Regions from separate parts of the Homo sapiens genome. Here region 1 is linked to region 2. Evidence: fine-mapped expression QTL. A gene starts in region 2. The other region holds a variant in brackets. All regions are shown on one strand. Distances are from middle to middle. Region 1 overlaps FBN3 (fibrillin 3). Region 2 holds the start of RPS28 (ribosomal protein S28).

Region 1 (11,314 bases), 230 kb before region 2:
GGTCCTGCCATCCTCCTCCAGCAGGTAGCCTCGGGGACAGCTGCACAGGAAACTGCCCTTCGTGTTTTTGCAGAGGAAGGTACATGGCTTGGGGACCTGGCTGCACTCATCCATATCTGGGGAAGGACAGCGTGGGTAGTGGGGCGGGGTTAGACAGACATTCCCTGGGGGTGTTCAGGGACTGAGGTCTCCACCAGACCCCGACCATCTGAAATCTGTGGACTTACACAGGAATGAACACTTCTTTCTGCAAAAAGCCAGGTGGGAAATACATTTGGTTTTGCAGGCCACACCATCTCAGATACAACTACTCCATGTGGCCTTTGTACTAGCAAAGCAGCCATTGAGGGTAAGCAGACAAATGTGCATGGCTGTGTGCTAATAAAACTTTATTGACAAGAACAAATGGAGGGCCAGACTTGACCCTCGGGCTAGAGTTTTCTTCCCGCTGACTTAGATGTACGCTTGCTACAAAACACAACTGAAAAATATCAGGATGTGCAAAATAAAAGGAAGAAATAACAGCAGGAAAGTGGCCCAAACAGGGTGGGGGTGGGAGAACGAAAGGATCCTCCCTCCCTCCCTCCCTCCCTTCCTTGTTTCTCTCTTTCTTTCTTGAGACGGAGTCTCGTTTCATCACCCAGGCTGGAATGCGATGGCGCAATCTCAGCTCACTGCACCCTCCGCCTCCCAGGTTCAAACAATTCTCCTGCCTCAGCCTCCCAAGCAGCTGGGATTACAGGCACATAACACCTGGCTAATTTTTTTTCTTTTTTTCTTTTTTTTAGTAGAGACGGTTTCATGATGTTGGCCAGGCTGGTCTCAAACTCCTGGCCTCAAGTGATCCTTCTGCCTCAGCCTCCCAAAGTGTGCTGGGATTACAGGCGTGAGCCACCTCACTTGGCCTTCCTTCCCTTCCTTCCTCTCCCTTTCTCTCTTTCTCCCTTTCTCTTTCTTTCTTTCTGTTTCTTTCTCTTTCTTTTTGTCTCTCTCTCTTTCTTTTTTCTTTCTTTCTCTTCTTTCTTCTCTTTTTTCTCTTTCTCCCCTTTCTCTTTGTTTCTTTCTCTCTCTCTCTCTTCCTTCCTTCCCTTCCCTTCCTTCCTTCCTTCCTTCCTTCCTTCCTTCCCTTTCTTTCTCTCTTTCTTTCTTGACAGAGTCTCACTCTGTTGTCCAGACTAAACTGCAGTGGCATGATCTCAGCTCACTACAACCTCCACTTCCTGGGTTCAAACGATTCTCCTGCCTCAGCCTCCCGCGTAGCTGGGATTATAGGCATGCACCAGCACGTGCAGCTAATTTTCGTATTTTTAGCAGAGATGGGGTTTCACCATCTTGGCCAGGCTGGTCTTGAAATCCTGGCTTCAAATGATGTGCCCACCTTGGCCTCCCAAAGTGCTGGGATTACAAGCATGAGCTACTATGCCTGGCCTGTTTTTTTTTTTCTTTCTTTCTTTTCTTTTGTTTTTCATTTTTTAAGAGACAGGGTCTCACTCTGTCACCCAGGCTGGACTGCAGTGGCACAATCAGCTCACTGCAGCCTCAGACTCCTGAGCTCAAGCAGCCTCCCAAGTAGCTGGGGCTACAGGCGCATGTGGGACTACAGGCCACCATCCTGGCTAATTTTTTTTAGCGATGGGGTCTTGCTATGTTGCTATGGAACTCCTGGTCTCAAGTGATCCTCCCACCTCGACCTCCCAAAATACTGGGATTACAGTAGCGAGCCATCACACCTGGCCCTCAGTTGTCTGTATGGTTTGGGCACCACTTTGTAAATGAAAGCCTAACATTGCAAAGTGGAAAGTCTCAGGGAAGTTGAGTTCAGGGGCTGCACAGAAGGTGGCCAGGCTGGGCCAAGGGTGCAGGTGCAGAGGGCTGGGCTCACCCAGGCAGGTAGTAGCAGTAGCATCCGGTGTGTACCCGGCCTGACAGTGGCAGCGGAAGGAGCCAAGGCTGTTGATGCACTCCCCATGAGCACACAGGTGAGCAAGCATACGGCATTCATCTACATCTGGGAAAAAGTAGGGTGCAAATGGGGCTGGCTGGCTGCTTCGCGCCTCCACCGAGGAATGTCTCCTTCTCTCTGCCCAGCAGCCGTCTCCTCGGAGGAAAGTCCAGCCTCCCTTCCACACCGGCCACTGCACCCCAGCCCACGTGGACCCCATCCTCAGGCTGCGGATGACACCTGAGCCCGCAGGACACGCCCATGAAGCTTCCAGGGAAGGGGACTCACACCCACCCCTCCCCAGCCTCAACAGCGACACCTCCTCAGTGCACCAACATGCAGAACAGAGACACACAGTGCATGCAACATGATACACTAGCCACACACCTAGATGCTCCTGCAGAAACACGGGAACACACGCCAACACTCAGGGACTCCCGAGTCTCCCCCCAGCCACACCCCCAAAAAGCCATTTCCTCCCCAGTCCTACTATTTTTTCTTTTTTTTTTTTTTTGAGACAGAGTCTCGCTCTGTCGCCCAGGCTGGAGTGCAGTGACACGATCTCTGCTCACTGCAAGCTCCGCCTCCCGGGTTCACGCCATTCTCCTGCCTCAGCCTCCCAAGTAGCTGGGACTACAGGCACCTGCCACCACGCCCGGCTAATTTTTTGTATTTTTAATAGAGACAGGGTTTCACCGTGTCAGCCAGGATGGTCTCAATCTCCTGACCTCGTGATCTGCCCGCCTCAGCCTCCCAAAGTGCTGGGATTACAGGCGTGAGCCACCGCGGCCCTCCCCAGTCCTGTTGATGCCACTGCTGGTCACATGGATAACCCATCTCACTATCAGTGACACACTCAGTGAGACGCACTGATGTCCTTATGCTCGCTCACACGCAGACACTCACATACCTGCCCTTGTACACTCACCCAAGTCCACAACACACAGGCCGCTGGCTCCCTCTCACTGCCTTCTACTTCACAGATGAACATGGTGTATACTTCTCACCCAGCTGACACACACAGACACACACCAGCTCCCACGCAGTCCGGAACGAGCTCTCACTCACAAAGAACACACACTGGGCCGGGCGCGGTGGCTCATGCCTGTAATCCCAGCATTTTGGGAGGCTGAGGTGGGCGGATCACTTGAGGCCAGGAGTTCGAGACCAGCCTGGCCAGCATGGCAAAACCTCATCTTTACTGGCCATGGGAGAGCCAGCCTCTCCCACGGCCCCAAAGAGATCCTTTGGGTCTGTTAAGGCCCTCTTGCTTTTTATTTTTATTTATTTATTTTTTTGGGACAGAGTTTCTCTCTGTTGCCCAGGCTGGAGTGCAATGGCGTGATCTCGTCTCACTGCAAGCTCTGCCTCCCGGATTCAAGGGATTCTCCTGCCTCAGCCTCCCGAGTAACTGGGATTACAGACACACGCCACCAAATCCAGCTAATTTTTTGTATTTTTAGTAGAGATGAGGTTTCACCATGTTGACCAGGGTGGTCTCAAACTCCTGACCTCAGGTGATCCGGCCGCCTCAGCCTCCCAAAGTGCTGGGATTACAAGTGTGAGCCACTGTGCCCGGCCTATTTTTATTGCTTTTGGAGACGAGGTCTTGCTCTATCACCCAGGCTGGAGTGCAGTGGCACTATCTTAGCTCATTGCAGCCTCAAATTCCTGGGCTTAAGCAATCCTCCTTCTTCAGCCTCCCAAAGTGCTGGGATGACAGGTATGCTACTGGGAGGCAGAGGTTGCAGTGAGCTGAGATTGCACCACTGCACTCCAGCCTGGGTGTCAAAGTGAGACTCTGTCTCAGAACACATACACACACATTGGCTCACACAACTGCTCCCTCAACCCCCCGAGTTCTTCCATGCATATGGTGCACACGTACTGGTTCTCATATCTGCTAGCACAAAGACACACACACACACACACACACACACACACACACACAGTGTGGCTCACACATTCCAGCACCTGCTGCAGTACAGACACATGACCCTGAGCAAACTCCCCCGTTTCTTGCCTCCCTGGGGGTCCTGAGGGCATGGGCACCCACCTCGGCCCTCAGCAGTGTAGCCTGAGCCATGGGGGCACAGCTTCCTGTAGGCAGAGGTGCCGGGCAGGGGACAGAGCTCGCAGCGGGGCCCCCAGCCCCGGCCACCCCCACAGCAGCACTCGGCCCTGGTGACAGCCTCACTGCTGCTGGACAGAGACCGGCACATGGTCTGCAGCACCTCGGCAAAGCAGGGCCCCTGCCGGATGTCTGCAGAGAACAATGGGAAAGACAACGGTCACTCCAGGAGGCTGGTTTGGGGGCAAAGACTGAGCTTGCTTTGGGGCAAGCTGTATTTTGGGGGTGTTGGGGACAGGGGTGTCCAGGAGGGAGTTGGATACACAGGACAGATGGCCCTAGTGGGTCACCGGCTGGGGTTAGCTCCCCAGAAGTGGGAGATCTGGGGAAGGTTGGTTCCGGGGTGTGGCGCCAGTAAGTTGGAGGAGGCATGGAGGGAGCGTCCCGCTCTTCCAGTATTTAACAGAAGGGACAGAGGGAAGAGGGGCAGCAGGGGAGCACTGGACATGTGTGTCCGGATTAGCTCAGCAACCCCCTGGGTTGCCCGTCAGTGCCGCAGGCCCCGTCCCTGCCTTGGAGGGCTCCCAGACAGTGGGAGGGACAGGCAGTGGGAGGGACAGGCAGTGGGGGGACAGGCAGTGGGAGGGACAGGCAGTGGGAGGGACAGGCAGTGGGGGGAACAGGCAGTGGAGGGAACAGGCAGTGGGAGGGACAGGGAGTGAAGGGGGCAGGCAGTGGGGGGAACAGGCAGTGGGGGGGGACAGGCAGTGGGTGCCACATGGTAGGTGGTTGCAACCACTGTGCGTGTCCAGCCACACTCACCGTGGCACTCGGTAAGGGTGGGGCTGGGCTGGAATCCCTCATCACAGTCGCACCGGAAGCTGCCCGCGGTGTTGACACAGCGGCCGTTGACACAGAGGTCAGGCTGAGCGTGGCATTCATTGTCATCTGAGATGGGAGGGGTGAGGCAGGTGGGCGGGGAGGCCACAGGCAGCCAGCCTCTCCCACAGCCCCAAAGGGCCCCTTTGGATCTGCCCAGGCCCTCTTGCTTATTTTTATTTTATTTATTTTTATTATTATTATTATTATTATTTTTTGAGACAGAGTCTCGCTCCGTTTCCCAGGCTGGAGTGCAATTGCCTGATCTTGGGTCACTACAACGTCCACCTCCCGGGTTCAAGAAATTCTTCTGCCTCAGCTTCCCAAGTAGCTGGGATTACAGGTGCCCGCCGCCACGCCCAGCTATTTTTTTTTTTTTTTTTGTATTTTTAGTAGAGACGGGGTTTCGCCGTGTTGTCCACCCTGTTCTCAAACTCCTAACCTCAGATGATCCAACCGCCTTGGTCTCCCAAAGTGCTAGGATTACAGGCGTGAGGCACCGTGCCC[A/G]GCCTTATTTTCATTTTTATTGTTTTTGGAGATGGGGTCTCACTCTGTCGTCCAGGCTGGAGTGCAGCGGCACTGTCCTCCCACTGCCTGTCACCTCCACTACCTGTCCCTCCCACTGCCTGTCCCCCCCCACTGCCTGTCCCTCCCATTCATTGAAGCCTCAAATTCCTGGGCTCAAGCGATCCTCTCGCCTCAGCCTCCCAAAGTGCTGGGATGACAGGTATGAGTCACCGTGCCCGGTCCAACCCTCTTGCTTTGACCTCTCCCTTCCACAAGGAGTTTCCTGCACCCATGAAGCTCCAGTGCCCCATACCTGTGCAGCCCTCCCCAGAGCCAGGCAGGGGCCGCATGCCTGGGGGACAGACGCACGCGAAGGTACCGATGAGGTTCTTGCACTCCATGCCCCGGGCGTGGCAGTCCTGCTGACCATCTGCACACTCGTCCACATCTTCGGATGACCAGAGACAGATGGTCAGTCAAGGCCAGGCACCCTATGGCTGTGGGGACCTGGATTCCACCCTGCGTCAGCCCTGTGGGACCTGAGTGAGTTCCCTGCAGACCCTGTCAAATGTCTATCCCTCTTAGGAAGGGAGCCCCCAGCTCCTGCCCAGCCCCAGCCTCCAAGAAGCTGAGGGAATCAGGAATTGTCCCCCAAAGCTTGCATCCCCTGCCCATGTCAGGGTCTGTGAGTCTGCTCATGGCCCCTGGAACACTGACCCTGAAACAGCCCCAGAGACACTGAGTCCCAGACCAGGGTCTCCCACGCTTGACACTATGAACATTTGGGATAGGAAAGTTCTTTGCGGTGGGCGGCTGTTCTGTGTGCATTGCAGGATTTTTTTTTTTTTTTTTTTTTTTTTGAGGCGGAGTTTTGCTCTTGTCGCCCAGGCTGGAGTGCAGTGGCATGATCTCGGCTCACTGCAACCTCCGCCTCCCAGGTTCAAGCGATTCTCCTGTCTCTCAGCCTCCCAAGTAGCTGGGATTACAGGCGTGTGCCACCATGCCCAGCTAATTTTGTATTTTTAGTAGAGACAGGGTTTTACCATATTAGTCAGGCCTACCTCGACACATGGCCCCATCCTCCCGCAGGGTGTAGCCGGCTGGACAGGTGCACAGGTAGGAGCCCTCGGTATTGTGGCAGCGGAAGGCACAGAGCAGCGGGTTCAGGGAGCATTCGTCGATGTCTGGGGAGGCCAGTGGAGGTGCCAGCTGGGTAGGGACTGAGGGCGGGACCTCCACTCCCTCCCCCAGGCATCTCCGTCACACGGCCCAGGTCCTGGGCAAGCAGAGTTGTACCCTCGCAGGTCATCATGAGGCCAGGCTCAAAGCCGTCAGCACAGGCACATTCGAAGCCTCCGATGACATTGGTGCATGTCCCTTGCCCACAGGGGTGGCCGACAGAGCACTCGTCTGTGTCTGGGTGGGAGTAAGGGGGTGGTCAGCACCTGCAGAGGGTCCCCCATCCTCAGTAGCATCCCATCTGCCTGCCTGTTGACCACCACAGATCGGAGGGGGCCAGATCGAATGCACCTCTAGTCTGGCTATGGGGCAGGCAAGCGGTATGTGTTTAGTGAATGAATGAGTGAATGTGTGAGCAAGTGGGCAGGTAAAGGAATGCATGAGTGAGCAAGGGAGTGAGTGAATGAGCAAGAAGTGAATGAATGAGCCAGTGAATGAAGGAGTGATTAAACCAGTAACTGAAACTGAGGCAGGAGGGTCATTTGAGCCCAGGAGTTCCAAAAGAGCCTGGGTAACATAGCAAGACTTCATCTCTAAAAAACATATAAATGAGTAAGTGAATGAATGGTTAAATGAATAAGGGAATGAGTGAGTAAAGGGGTGAATGAGTGGGTGAATTACTGAGTGAGTGAATGGAGAAATCAGCAAGGAAGTGAATGAATGAACAAGAGGGCAAATGAGGAAACGAATGAGTGACTGAATAAGTGAGTGAAAGCATGAATGAATGAGCAAAGGAATGAGTGAGTAAATGAATAAATGAGTGATTGAATGGGTGAATGAGCAAGGAGACAAATGAAGGAACAAATGAATGAGTGAACAAACAAGCAAGTGAATGAATGAGGGAGCAAACGAGTGAATGAGTGAATGAGTAAATGAATGAGTGAGTGAATGAATGAGCCAGTGAATAAATGAGGTGTGAATGAATGAGGGAGTGATTGAATGAACAAGTGAATGAATGAACAAGCGAAGGAATGAGTGAGCAAAGGAGTGAATGAGTGAGAGAATTAGCAAGTGAATGAGTGAGGGGGCAAATGAGTGAATGAGTGAATAAGTGAGTAAATGAATAAGTGAGTAAATGAATAAGTGAGTGAATGAGCAAGTGAATGAATGACGTGTGAATGAATGAGGGAGTTAGTGAATTAATAAGTGAATGAATGAACAAGTGAAGGAATGAGTGAGCCAAGGAGTGAATGAGTGAGTGAATTGGTAAGTGAATGAATAAGGGAGTAAATGAGTGAGTGAATGAGTGAATGAATGAGAAAATGAGTAAGTGAGTGAGCAAGTGAATGAATGAGTCAGTAAATGAATAAGTGAATGAGTAAATGAATAAGTGAGTGAGTGAATGAATGAGCAAGAAAATGAGTGAGCAAGTGAATTAATGAGTGAATGAAGCACAGAGGGAGAAAAAGTGAATGGGGGAGAGAGGCAGTGGTTAAGGACAGGATCTCACCCACTGCCTGGGGGTGTCTTCCCTGCCCTGCTCTGCTCCTTCCTGTCCTGGGAGGGGCCTGGGACAGAGCTGGGGAAGGGCTGGCCACTCACCCACACAGTTGATGCCAGTGAAGTCCAGGCTGTAGCCAAAGGGACACTCACAGCGGAAGGATCCATCGGTGTTGACACAGACGCCGTTAGTGCAGACGCCAGGGTTCTCTGCACACTCATTCACGTCTGCGGATGGCAGGCGTTGCAGACATGGCTTCTGTCACCACACAATCGCCAGAGCCCTGGCCACACTCAAGGCCCCAAGGGGACAAAAGCCCAAGCCCCAGGCTGGCAGGGTCCAGGGCCACCCAGGCTCTCAGGGGGAGCCTGAAACTCAGAGACCCAGGCAGTGCGGAGATGGATCTGGGTGGCCCAGAAGGGGCTCTTAGCATGTGGGTGAGGGGCTCACCTTCTCGGGAGTCATCCGGGCCTGGGACTGCCCCGTGGCCAAAGGGGCAGAGCTCCTGAAAGGCAGCTGGACGGAGAGGGGGAGGGGAGTCAGAGTCAGGGCCTAGGTGCAGCCCCCAGGTGTGTGCAGGGAAGGATGAGAGAAGAATGAGAGAGGAAGGTGAGGGCACATCATCCAGGGAGCCTGGACAGGGGTGGGCACTCACCGCTGCCCTCCTGGGGACACAGTTCGCAGGGGTCTCCCCAGCCCTCCCCAGGCCTCTTACTGCAGCAGCAGCGGGTCTTGGTGGTGTTGAAAGCTTTGGGCACCGAGCACTTCCCAGCCTCAAAACGGGTGAAGCAGAAACTCTGCCGTGTGTCTGTGGGGTGGGGGCTCCATTACCCTGATTGAAAGCCGCTGGCAGTGCCCACCTGCCCCTGTGACCTCCCGCACCCCAGTCCTGGTGAATGGGTTGTGCTGATCCTGCCAGTGGCCAATCAGAACATGCCATGCCCCTGGTCATGGTGATTGGTTTGAGTATGGACATGTGACCTACTCTGGGCCAATGAGGATCTGCCCTGGGTTTTTAGTTGTTGTTGTTGGTGGTGGTGGTGGTTTTTTTTTTTTTTCAGATGGAGTCTTCCTCTGTTGACCAGGCTGGAGTGCAGTGGCACGATCTCAGCTCACTGCAACCTCTACCTCCCAGGTTCGAGTGATTCTCCTGCCTCAGCCTCCCAAGTAGCTGGGATTACAGGCATGTGCCACCACACCCGGCTAATTTTTGTATTTTTAGTAGAGACGGGGTTTCACCACATTGGCTAGGCTGGTCTCAAACTCCTGACCTCAGGTGATCAGCCTGCCTCAGCCTCCCAAAGTGCTGGTATTACAGTCATGAGCCACCGCCCCTGGCCTGCCCTGGGGTTTTGAGGGGACAGCTGGAATCCCACCCCACTTCATTGCTTTGGGGTGTTCTCATGCCAGGAAGAAAGATCAAACTTGGTGGTTACTCTTGGATCAAAAACCCCTTCCTGGAGAGGCAAAACGACTGATTCCAGAAAGCCCGAGGATCCAAACCCCCAATCCTTGGCTCTGGACACCTATCAAGTCCTCACCAGCAGGCTGGGGTCCCAGCCTCCCAGAACAGCAAATATTCGCTGAGGTGAACTGCATGCTCTGCTCTCACCCTTATTGCCCCTGACCTGTGAGAGAACAGGCTGGCTCAAGCTGGGTGAGGTTAGCCCACAGTAGACAAGGCTAGCCCAGCTGAAACGGAGCCAGCCCAGAGTAGTCTAGGCTAGCTCAAACTGGACAAAACCAGCCCATTGACAGCCTACAGTCATGTGACCAATACAAGGAAAACCTAAATAAGCACACACCTAGCTCAGAATGGACCAGGTTAGCCCTCCATAGACATGACCTCTATAGCCAAGAGGTTGCTGGCACTAGGATAACTCTGCTAATGCAAACAGACACCTCTGCCTGGTCAGAGCTCCCAAAGGGTCACACAAGAAACCACAGCCCTCTTTTCTGGGCAATCTGACCCTTCCCCGCCCCACTTCCCACCCTCTTCCCTAAGCCCTGTGTGGACTTACCAAAGCAACGGTGCCCATTGTCAGAGAGGACAAAGCCAGGTGGGCAGAGGCACTGGAAGCTCCCAGGGCTGTTGGTACAGGTGCCAAAGAGGCAGAGGTTGGGCTCCTCTGAGCACTCGTCGATATCTGGAAGGGCAGGGACATGAGCTGGGTGGGGGGCAAGTAGGACCTCCATCAGTGGGGAGAGGACTCAGCTGTGAGAAGGGACAGATGGAGTGCAGGTCCAGCCAGGGGCTGCAGTGGGGCTGGGGTCCTGAGAGCTCAGTATGAGCTTCAGCACGAGGTGGGCATTGTGTGTGCACGTAGGTCCTTCCCGGAAGGCATCTCCAGAGTAAAGGTCATGGTCAGGAATAGTTCATGATTGGAGACTGAAACTGCACATAGTACAACCTCTATGGAAAACAGTGTGGCGATTCCTTAAAGAACTAAAAGTAAGGCCGGGCGCGGTGGCTCATGCCTGTAATCCCAGCACTTTGGGAGGTGGAGGCGGGTGGATCACCAGGTCAGGAGATTGAGACTATCCTGGCTAACATGGTGAAACCATCTACTAACAATACAAAAAAATTAGCCGGGTGTGGTGGTGGGCGCCTGTAGTCCCAGCTATTCTGGAGGCTGAGGTAGGAGAATGGCATGAACCCGGGAGGCAGAGCTTGCAGTGAGCTGAGCTCATACCACTGCACTTGAGCCTGGGTGACAGAGCGAGACTCTGTCTCAAAAAAAAAAAACCAAAAAACTAAAAGTAGAACTACCATTCAATCCAGCAATCCTACTACTGGGTATCTACCCAAAGGAAAGTAAGTCATTATATGAAAAAGACACACGCACATGCATGTTTATAGCAACACAATTCACAATCGCAAAAATCTGGAGCCATCATATTTATAAATGCCCATCAGCCAACGAGTAGATAAAGAAAATGTGGTATATAATACACCATGGAATACTACTCAGCCACAAAATGGAACGAAATAGGCACAGTGGCTCACACCTGTAATCCCAGCACTTTGGGAGGCCAAGGCTGGTGGATCACTTGAGATCAGGAGCTGGAGACCAGCTTGGCCAACATGGTGAAACCCTGTCTCTACTGAAAATACAGAAATTAGCTGGGCATTGTGGCGGGGCGCACCTGTAATCCCAGCTACCAGGAGGGTGAGGCAGGAGAATCGCTTGAACCCGGGAGGTGGATATTGCAGTGAGCTGAGACTGTGCCACTC
Region 2 (11,009 bases):
CCTTCCCTGGGCAATGGAATGTCTCGGTGTAAAACCCGATTGTATATTCCATCTACTGAGATAGGGGAAAACCGCCTTAGGCCTGAAGGTGGGACATGCGGGCAGCAATACTGCTCCTTAAGGCATTGAGATGTTTACGTGTATATGTATCTAAAGCACAGCACTTAATTCTTTACATTGTTTATGATGCAGAGACTTTTGTTCACGTGTTTACCTGCTGACCTTCTCTCCACTATTATCCTATGATCCTGCCACATCCCCCTCTCACACATCACACCCAATAATGATGAATAAATACTAAGGGAACTCAGAGGCCGGGTGGATCCTCCGTATGCTGAGCGCTGGTCCCCTGGTCACCCGATTTCTTTCTCTATACTTTGTCTGTGTCTCTTTCTTTTCCAAGTCTCTCATTCCACCTAACGAGGAACACCCACAGGTGTGGAGGGGCAACCCACCCCTTCAGCCTGGGCGACGCAGGGAGACTCCATCTCAAAACAAAAACAAAAACAAAAACAAAACAGGCCAGGCACGGTGGGTCACGCCTGTAATCCTAGCACTTTGGGAGGCCGAGTCGGGTGGATCACAAGGTCAGTTCAAGACCAGCCTGGCCAAGATGGTGAAACCCCGCCTCTACTGAAAATACAAAAATTAGCTGGGTGTAGTGGTGGGCACTTGTAACCCCAGCTACTTGAGAGGCTGAGGCAGAGAATCGCTTGAACCCGGGAGGTGGAGATTGCAGTGAGCCGAGATCACACCACTGCACTCCAGCCTGGGTGACAGAGTGAGACTCCGTCTCAAAAAAAAAAAAAAAAAAAAAATTGACCCAGCATGGTGGCACTAATCTGTAACACCAATTACTGGGGAGGCCAAGGAAGGAGGGGAGGATCACTTCAGCCTAGGCGTTCAAGGCTGCAGTGAGTGATGATTGCGCCATTGCACTTCATCCTGGGCAACAGAGCAAGACTCTGTCTCTAAAAACGAGTAAATGAGCTCTCGGACAAAAAGCTCCCAGCAGCACAGTTCCTGCGCAACTGATGCTTACTAAGTAGGATCTTGACAAGCACCCTTTCCACAAGTTGGGAGACAGAGTGGGTTGCAGGAGGGGGCATGGGGGCTGTGGTGAGCAGCGCTGGAGATCCTCACCTCTCTGCTGGCTTGCCTGACACCAGCGCCTTCTGCGACGACATGATGATGGAAGGGGGCACAGATTCCCGGCGGCCATCGCGAGTGCAATAGTAATTGTTGGAGAGCTTGTGGCTAGGACCCACAGGGAGCTTGGGAGGAGGCTGAGTTCTGAGGGGAAAAAAGATGAGCACTGAAGCAAAGAGACAGTCACTGTCATGGCCCCGCTGTGGGCCCCTGTCACCTCAGTCACAAAATGTGGGATCTACAGCCAGCCACTGGGATAAGCCACAGGCTGGGGGTGTCCCTTGGTACACTGGCAGGGACATATGCCTGGGGAGGGGTCCTGGGGCCAGAAGCAGATGGTGGACCCTGCTCTGGATGTGAAGATGCCACCCCCAGGGACCCCACCTGTCCCAAATGTGGAGGGTACAGAGGACCCTTTCTGAGGCTCCCAAGGCCCGGGACATGTCCCCATGCCCCCCACCCCACGGCTGAGCTTGGCAGCCAGCCTCACTTGACTTTGTCCACTCTGAGTGGCTTTTTCCCCTAAAGCCAGGCTCTGGACGCCCTGCGTTTCCTGTTATCTCAGGAAGTCTCTGGAGAACCCTGCTAGGATCAAGGCCCATTATTCAAGAACACCTTAGCCTTGGAGCCTGTCAAGATCTCTGCATTTCCTGCCACCATGTGGCCAGGCAACTCCTCTCTGGAGCCCAGAGAGGGGTGAACAGAGCTCGGTCTTGGCTTGAACTAAACCCTGGGCTGGATTTACCTGGAAGCCTGAGGCCTTAAAAGAAATGCTCAAAACAAGGATGGGCAGGGTGGCTCATGCCTGTAATCCCAGCACTTTGGGAGGCCGAGGTGGGTGGATCACTTGAGGTCAGGTGTTCGAAACCAGCCTGGCCAACACTGCAAACCCCATCTCTACTAAAATACAAAAATTAGCCAAGCATGGTGGTGGGAGGCAGAGGTTGCAGTGAGCTGAGATCACGCCACTACACTCCAGCCTGGGCGACAGAGCGAGACTCCATCTCAAAAAACAAAAAAAGCTCAAAACAAAAGACGGGCTTTCCAGAGAGAGGGAGGAGAGAAGACAGCAAAAACCGTAAATTGATCTGTTTCCACTTAGCCATGTTTCTAAGTCACTTTTTTGTCTGGGAACTGTTTCCCGGAATTTAATTTTTTTCTGAGGCAGTGATCATATGCACTGCAGCCTGGATGATATATGCAATCATATGATCGCTTGAGGTGTGATCATAGCTCACTGCAGCCTCAACCTCCTGGGCTCAAGCAATGCTCCCGCCTCAGCCTCTCAAGTAGCTGGAACTACAGGCGCACACTACCACATCTGGCTAAAAACAATTTTTCTATTGTTTTTGTGGAGTCGGGGGTCTTGCTATGTTGCCCAGGTTGATGTCGAATTCCTGGCCTTAAGTTATCCTCTCACCTTGGCCTCCCAAAGTGCTGGGATTACAGGCGTGAGCCACCACTCCTGGCCTTTTTCTTAAAACAAGTGTTAGTCACTGTATTTTTTAAAAATAAGAAACATAAAGTAAAAAATGTTTAATATTAAAAGCAATATATTATGTGAAAGACTTTGCTTAAGGAGGCTGGATGTGGTGGCTCATACCTTGGGAGGCCAAGGTGGAAGGATTGCTTGAGGCCAGGAGTGTTTTTTTTGTTTGTTTTTTTTTGAGATGGAGTCTCGCTCTGTCGCCCAGGCTAGAGTGCTGTGGTGCGATCTCGGCTCACTGCAACCTCCGCCTCCCAGGTTCAAGCGATTTTCCTGCATCAGCCTCCCAGGTAGCTGGGAATACAGGCGTGTGCCACCATGCTGGCTAATTTTTGTATTTTTAGTAGAGATGGGTTTTCACTATGTTGGCCAGGCTGGTCTCAAACTTCTGACCTTGTGATCCGCCTGCCTCGGCCTCCCAAAGTGCTGGGATTACAGGCATGAGCCACCATGCCCAGTCAGAGGCCAGGAGTTTAAGACCAGCTTGGGCAACATGGTAAGACCTTGTCTCTATACAAAAATTTAAAAATTAGCCAGGCACGGTAACATGTGCCTGTAATCCCAGCTACTTGGTACGCTGGACCAGGAGGATCACTTAGGCCTGGAAGTTCGAGGCTGCAGTGAGCTATGATTGTGCCACTGCACTCCAGCCTGGGTCACAGAAACCCAGTCTTACAAAAAAAAAAAAAAAAAAAAAAAAAAAAGGCCAGGCGCGGTGGCTCACACCTGTAATCCCAGCACTTTGGGAGGCCGAGGCGGGCAGATCACGAGGTCAAGAGATCAGACCATCCTGGCAAACATGGTGAAACCCCGTCACTACTAAAAATACAAAAATTAGCTGGGTGTGGTGGTGCACGCCTGTAGCCCCAGCTACTCGGGAGGCTGAGGCAGGAGAATCACTTGAACCCGGGAGGCGGAGATTGCAGTGATCTCAGATCCGCCACTGCACTCCAGCTTGGCGACAGAGTGAGACTCTGTCTCAAAAAAGAAAAAAAAAAAAAGACCAATAAAACATCCAGATGAATCACTAGAGGGTGCCGTCATCCTAAAAAAGTCAAAACTTTCACAAAGCCATTTCCTCAACTGGCCCACAACTACCCTGATAGAAAGCCAACTAGGGGGGTCGGGGGTTGGGGGGGAGAGAGCATCAGGAAGAATAGCTAATGGATGCTGGGCTTAATACCTAAGTGATAGGTTGATCTTTGATCTTTGCAGCAAACTACCATGGCACGTTTACCTTTGTAACAAAACTGCAAATGTACCCCAGAACTTAACGTTAAAGTTGAAAACAAGCCGGGCGCAGTGGCTCACACCTGTAATCCCAGCACTTTGGGAGGCCGAGGCAGGCGGATTATGAAGTCAGGAGTTCGAGACCAGACTGGCCAACATGGTGAAACCCCGTTTCTACTAAAAATACAAAAAATTAGTCAGGCGTGGTGGCACATGCCTGTAATCCCAGCTACTTGGGAGGCTGAGGCAGGAGAATCGCTTGAACCCGGGAGATGGAGATTGCAGTGAGCTGAGATTGTGCCATTGCACTCCAGCCTGGGCAATAAGAGCAAAACTCCGTCTCAAAAAAAAAAAAAAAAAAAAGTTGAAAACAAAGTTTGATACTTCTAATATTTGGAATTAGTCACAACATATAGGCATTTACATAAATTTCATTATTTTAATGCTATTTTTCTTCCTTTCATTATAATCCTCAATGACTGCCTTACCTCTGCCTACCCTTTGACTTCATAGATTATACCATTATCCCTTTCCCTCAATGGGTTCCATCCATACTGGCCTCCTTCCACTCAGGCTCTGTCCAGCCTGACACTCTTAGCCCTTCCTGTTCCCTCTGCTCAGAATGTTTTTTCTTTTTTATTTTTTTGAGACAGAGTGTTGTTCTGTCACCCAGGCTGGAGTGCAGTGGTGCGATCTCAGCTCACTGCAATATCCACCTCCTGTGTTCAAGCGATTCTCCTGCCTCAACCTCCCGAGTAGCTGGGACTACCCGCGCGCGCCACCACGCCCGGCTAATTTTTGTATTTCTAGTAGAGAGGGGGTTTTACTGTGTTTCACTGTGTTGGCCAGGCTGGTCTCAAACTCCTGACCTCGTGATCCGCCTGCCTCAGCCTCCCCAAGTGCTGGGATCACAAGCGTGAGCCACCGCGCCCGGTCAGAATGTTTTTTCAATAATTATTCTTTGAATGGGTCCTTCCCATCATTCAGGGGACTCAACTGTCAATTTCCAAAGAAAGATCTTTCCCAATCATCTGACTTTACGTAGCCACCCTCCAGCTTCCACTTATTTTGTTTTGTCTTCAAAGCATTCCAGAACAATACTACCTGCTGTGTTTGTTTCCCTACTATGCTTCTCCCTAGAATGTGGCGTCCATGAAAGAATGTGGATAAGAACTTTCCTGGTTCACAAAGTTAAACCCAAGGCTGAGGTCATACATGACGGGGGCTTGTAAATATCAACTAATATTTTAATATAAATGAGTCTGAAATCAGGACACTTCTGGGTTCAAGTCCCCGCTGCCACTTTTTAGCTTCTGAGTGACTTGAGGCAAATGATTTCGCCTCTCTGGACCTCTTTTTTCATCTGTAGCTTGGGGATAACACTGACTAACATGGCCACGCTGAGCACTGCAAATCTAGCCTGATTGCCAGTCAGAATGCACGCCCGGCCTCGCTGTTTCAGGAGGGCTGTCCTCCGGAGTTCAGCAAGGTTAAAGGCAAACCTCTGCCTCCACAGCCTGGCAGGGGACTGGTGGCAGGATGTCAGCCCTCCGTTTCAGGGGTCTAAAGGAACACAGATTTCGTTTTTGGTGGAGAAAGGACAGAGCCAGAGGCTGGGCAGCGAGCGGGGCCTGCTCACCGCTTGGAGATCTCCTGGTAGCGTAGCTGCAGCTTCCCCTGCAGGTCATGCTGTGGGAAGAGGAGAGGAGAGGTCGGCCTGCAAGGCACCCCAGGAGAGAGGAAAGGAGAGGGCAAGGGACCAGGGATGGTCCGGGGATGCGCATTTTAAGGGAAGGCAGGGGATGAACACTCGGGGAAACGGATGTGGGTCCTGCAGGTGAAGAGCAAAGCCAGAGTCCGGGCCCACAGATCCAAGGCTAAGAAGGTCGGGGACTGGGGAAATCCCAGGCCTGAGTGGTTCCCAGGCCAGGAGAGGGTCCCGGGCTGAAGGGGTGACTAGCTGGGGGTTCCCAGGGAGATTCGGGGAGAGCGAAGGGTCCCGGCTTAGGAGGGAGGTGAGGAGCAGGAGCGGGTCCCGGACACACGGAGCCCGAAGCCCCCCATGGTGCAGCCCTGTCCGCCCCGCGCACCCCGGACGCCCAGTTCCGCAGCCGCTGGATGAGACGGGTGGCGGACGCCATCTTCCGTCCGCGATACTGAAGGGCGCAGCCGGTGACGTCTCCACCGCTGGGGCTGCTGGGAAAGACGCGGCGTGGTATCGCGAGACGGGAGTGGGCGGTGCTAGAACGTCCTATAAAGGCTCTCCCCGAAGCACGTGACTCCTCTCCGCCAGACCGCCGCCGCGCCGCCATCATGGACACCAGCCGTGTGCAGCCTATCAAGCTGGCCAGGGTGAGGTGGGGGCCCGAATTTGGGGGCAGGGGGAGGGATTAGAGGAGCCAAACGGGCCGGGTCTGAACCCAGCTTCTTTCCTCCAGGTCACCAAGGTCCTGGGCAGGACCGGTTCTCAGGGACAGTGCACGCAGGTAATCGGGTGGGGGCATTTGGCCGACTGCCGGCGACCTAAACCCTGATGTGACCTCTACCCTGCCCTAACCCCTGCCAGCCGGAATCCGGGAGCCGATTCTCATTTCATCACGGGGTTCTGATGGTTCCCTTTAACGATCTGTATTCTGGCCCCGACACGTTCTCTGAATTCATATCTGCTTCCCACTCCGCGGTGCCTTTCCGCGGCCCGCCCTTACTTCTTCCTCCACTCCGGTGGGGACCCGTAGGTGCGCGTGGAATTCATGGACGACACGAGCCGATCCATCATCCGCAATGTAAAAGGCCCCGTGCGCGAGGGCGACGTGCTCACCCTTTTGGAGTCAGAGCGAGAAGCCCGGAGGTTGCGCTGAGCTTGGCTGCTCGCTGGTGGGTGCAAAGAGGACACCCCTTTGATAGACCTTTGGTTGGTGGTAGGGAGGCTTCGTTAAGCCCAGGGTGAGAGGGTTTGGGAGGCAGAGTCTACATACAGAGACTGACAAGAGGGAGGCGGGAGTTTGCCAATTGCTGCGGGGCCTGTCAACATCTCATGTTTGGGTCTGTTTACAGGGTCTTGGATGTCGGGTTCGACCACTTGGCCGATGGGAATGGTCTGTCACAGTCTGCTCCTTTTTTTTGTCCGCCACACGTAACTGAGATGCTCCTTTAAATAAAGCGTTTGTGTTTCAAGTTAACTCAGGTTCTTGTCTGGGTTATACGACTAGGGTTTCTCCAGGTTTCTTGAGTGGCTCCCAGGCGGTCACCGATCCTCCGCACTCTGGAAATCCTGGCCGTGCGGTCTTGCCAAACGAAGCTTTTCCTTTTTGAGGCGGGGGGTCGTGTTTGTCGATTGCACCCTCTACCCCAAACAAAACACAAGCGTAGTAGGAATGTTTTATTAGCAAAGAAGTTTCAGAGAGTGGGTGGATCAGGGCTCTATCACTTGGTCCCCACCTCACCTTGGTGGGGCCAGAGTGAGCCCCTTCCTGCCACAGTCACCCCAACTGAAATTGCCTTTCTCTTCGGCCAGTGTTAGCCTCTGAGCAGGGGACCCTGGACCCTTCTGTGCGCCAAAGGCTGAGGTGACTGACGAGGAGATCTCCCCACAGCTAGGTGTAGTGAGCCAGACGAGGCAGCTTACTGAACCTGGGGGTTCTCTCCATTGTCACCGCATTCTCCTTCACCAGGTGTGGCTGTCTGGGAGCCAGGGGGTGACTCGCTCTGGAGAGAGGGGAAAAGAGGGGGGCCTGCTGCAATCTCCTTGAGGCAGGAAACGTGGGATTCAGCCCCAGCCTCACTTAGTGGAGGTTCTTTTACCATGGACCCAGGCTGCCTGGTTTGTATCCAACCTCTGCCCCTTCTGACCTGGAAGAGGCGCTTGACCTTCCTCCCACATCCCTTCCAGTGGGGTGAGTACAGGTGTTCCTCAGTTTACAATGGGTTACATTCCGGTGAGTACATCATAGGTTGAAAGTATTGCAAGTTGAAATGTGTTTAATACACCTAATCTCCCAAACATCACAGCTTAGCATGGTCCATCTTAAGCTTGTTCAGAACGCCTTAGCCTGTAGTTGGGGAAACTCGTCTAACACGAAGCCTGTTTTAATAAAGTATTGAATGTCTTATGTAATTTATTGAATACTCTGCTGAAGTGTGGTTTTTACTAAGCACACATTGCTTTTATGCTATCATGAAGTCAAAAAATTGTAAGTTGTGCCAGGCGCGATGGCTCACAGCTGTTGTAATCCCAGCTACTTGGGAGGCTGAGGCAGGAGAATTTCTTGAACCTGGGAGGTGGAGGTTGCAGTGAACTGAGATTGTGCCGCTGCACTCCAGCCTGGGTGACAGAACGAGACTCTTGTCTTCAAATGAAAAAAAAAAATTAGCTGGGCATGGTAGCACGTGCCTGTAGTCCCAACTACTTGAGAGGCTGAGGCAGAAGAATCGCTTGAACCCCAGAGGTGGAGGTTGCAGTGAGCTGCAGTCGCCCCACTGCACTCTAGCCTCGGTGACAGAGGAAGACTCCATCTCAAAAATAAATAAAAAATGGTAAGTGGAGCCATGGTAAATTGGGGTCAACCTGTACAGGATGAGTGGGCTGATTAGATAACTTGGATTATGAAAGTGCTAAAACATCCTGGCACTTGGCCATCAGAGTATAGTGGTGTTGGGGGTTAATGTGTTCTGCAAACTCACCCAGTCTCCAGTTCTGAAGCTCTGGACCCCCTTCCCCACCCTGCCTGATGCCAAAGGGCTCCTTTTTCCTTTGATAAGAGCCTCCCTGGCAGTAGGTAACAGGAGCCCAGGGGCATGCATGAAAGGTCTTAGCTAGGTCTCTGTGACCTTAGGTTACTTCCCCCCTTGAGGACTCAGTCTCATGACCTGGGGTAGTGTCAACCTCACTGGGGTTTTGCTGCTTTCACATCAAATCCCAGCCCCTGCCAGGCGCTCTGGTTTCACACCTGTAATCCCAGCACTTGAGGATGCTGAGGCAGAAGGATCCCTTGAGCTCAGGAGTTTGTGGCTGCAGTGAGCTCTGATCACACCACTACACCCCAACCCGGGTTACAGAGTGAGACCCTGTCTCCCAAAAAAGAAAAGCAGCCACATAGGAGAATCCAGACACTGGTTCTGCACCCCTGGTGCCACCTTTGGGGAGCAGAAAGGGAGGCTCAGGGCATATTTACTATCCTCTGCAAACTGAATTTGCAGCTGGGAAAGTTTGTTTCTTCCAGAGCTGTGCTCACCTGGGTGTCGGGCTGGCCCGAGCTCAGGTGGGCATGTAGCAGAGCGGCCACCTCATCCTGCTCAGCCTCCAGGGCGATGGCCAGGGCACTGGTGCCCTCCTGTGGAACGTTAGGGACAGTCAGATCCCTGAGCCAAGCCATGGGCACCCCCCAAGATGCCAGCCCCATTGTGGGGTCTTACATTGTCCAGGATGGCAGGGTCACAGCCTGGCTGGGTGAGCAGCAGCCGCACGGTGTCCAGGCGCCCATACTCACTGGCACACATCAGCGCTGTGGCCCCATCCGCATCCTGCGCATTCACATCAGCCCCACACGCCAGTAGGGTTGCCACCATGTCCTGTCGGCCATGGCTGATGGCCAGCATGAGGGCTGTCTGCCCCGTCTGGGGAGTGGGGAGGAAGAGGGAACAGGCTGGGGTAGGCTCAGGGAAGGGAGGTCACAGGTTGACTCCCAAAGTGGAAGTGACTCCTGGCTGAGAGCCACAGTGGGGGCGCCCACGCACCTGACTGGCCTTGGCATTGACATCACCCATGCAGAAGAGTCTCTGGACCACAGCCATGTCCTCCTCTTCCTGCCTCACAGAGGTGAGTGCAGCCAGCATGAGGGCCGAGTAGCCGGCTCGGTTCTGGCGGTTGACCTCGCAGGCCCCTGGGAGAGAAAAGGGGGCCGTCCACGGAGATGCCAACACCGCGGCCCGACTTGATCCACTCACCTCCCTGCAAGCCTCGGGCACAGCACCTGCATATGGGGTGGTCTCAACGTTCTCCCCACAATAGCTACCTGGTTCCTCCCTCACTAAGGTGTTGCTCAAATACCATCTGCTCAGTGAAGGACCTTCCTGTTTCATCTTTTTTTTTTTTTTTTTTTTTTTTTTGAGACATAGTCTCGCTCTGTCACCCAGGCTGGAGTGCAGTGGTGCGATCTCAGCTCACTGCAATCTCCACCTCCGGAGTAGCTGGAACTACAGCATGTGCCATCACACCCAGCTAATTTTTGTATTATTTAGTAGAGACAGGGTTTCACCATGTTGGCCAGGCTAGTCTCGAACTCCTGACCTCAAGTGATCCACCCACCGTAGCCTCCCAAAGTGCTGGAATTAGAGGCATGAGCCACTGGCCCAGTGGCTATTTCAAATCAAGTCCCTGTTTCAAATCAGGCAGGGACTTGGTTTTGTTTGCTTCTGTATCCCTCAGTACTTAGAACAATACTTGGCACATAGTAGATGCTCAGTTAAACATTTGTTGACTGAATAATAAAAGGATATGTTTATTTTCATGGCCACCACCCGCCAAGCCACCATCATTGCTCCCCTAAAGAACAGTGCCAGCCTCCACCCTTCTCTCTGAATCCACTCCAGGTTCCACACAGCAGCCAGGAGCAACTATTTATTTATTTAGAGATGGAGTCTCATTCTGTCGCCCAGGCTGGAGTGCAGTGGCACGATCTCAGCTCACTGCAACCTCTGCCTCCCAGGTTTAAGCGATTCTTCTGCCTTGGCCACTTGAGTAGCTGGGATTACAGGCATGCACCACCACGCCCAGCTAATTTTTGTATTTTTAGTAGAGACGGTTTCACCATGTTGGTCAGGCTGGTCTCGAACTCCGACCTCATGATTCGCTTGCCTCAGCTTCCCAAAGTGCTGGGATTACAGGTGTGAGCCACCGCGCCTGGCCAAGAGCAACAATTCAAAATGAATTTGGTTGCCAGGACACTGGCTCACGTCTGTAATCCCAGCACTTTGAGAGGCCGAGGTGGTTGATCACTTGAGGTCAGGAGTTCGAGACCAGCCTGGCCAATGTGGTGAACCCCATCTCTACTAAAAACACAAAAAATAGCCAGGCGTGGTGGCAGGCACCTGTAATCTCAGCTACTCAGGAGGCTGAGGCAGGATAATCACTTGAACCTGGGAGCTG

What was found. PIP is the estimated chance that this variant, and not a neighbour inherited with it, causes the effect.
Region 1: its variant is fine-mapped to the expression of RPS28 in kidney cortex (GTEx, PIP above 0.99).

Annotation. Positions count from the first base shown.
Region 1 is chr19:8,081,365-8,092,678 of GRCh38, forward strand. It overlaps FBN3 (fibrillin 3), which reads right to left. Exons shown (of 64, transcript NM_032447.5): 48 at 10,101-10,226; 49 at 8,735-8,887; 50 at 8,530-8,595; 51 at 8,181-8,306; 52 at 6,696-6,815; 53 at 6,461-6,583; 54 at 5,713-5,847; 55 at 4,836-4,961; 56 at 3,999-4,205; 57 at 1,883-2,008; 58 at 1-116. Among named protein-coding and RNA genes, the nearest start is that of CCL25, 34 kb to the left of the region's middle. The variant A/G (reference allele first, on the strand shown) is at 5,400.
Region 2 is chr19:8,315,353-8,326,361 of GRCh38, forward strand. RPS28 (ribosomal protein S28) reads left to right here and starts at 6,144. Exons shown (of 4, transcript NM_001031.5): 1 at 6,144-6,217; 2 at 6,304-6,351; 3 at 6,601-6,739; 4 at 6,920-7,988. The coding sequence starts at 6,179. The coding sequence ends at 6,723. NDUFA7 (NADH:ubiquinone oxidoreductase subunit A7) reads right to left here and starts at 6,023. Exons shown (of 4, transcript NM_005001.5): 1 at 5,956-6,023; 2 at 5,505-5,554; 3 at 1,144-1,293. The coding sequence starts at 6,006. It overlaps KANK3 (KN motif and ankyrin repeat domains 3), which reads right to left. Exons shown (of 11, transcript NM_198471.3): 8 at 9,599-9,744; 9 at 9,278-9,478; 10 at 9,097-9,195; 11 at 7,232-7,570. The coding sequence ends at 7,487. RefSeq lists enhancers at 4,143-5,110, 5,111-6,078, 5,933-6,172, 6,079-7,046, 7,047-8,012 and 1 more.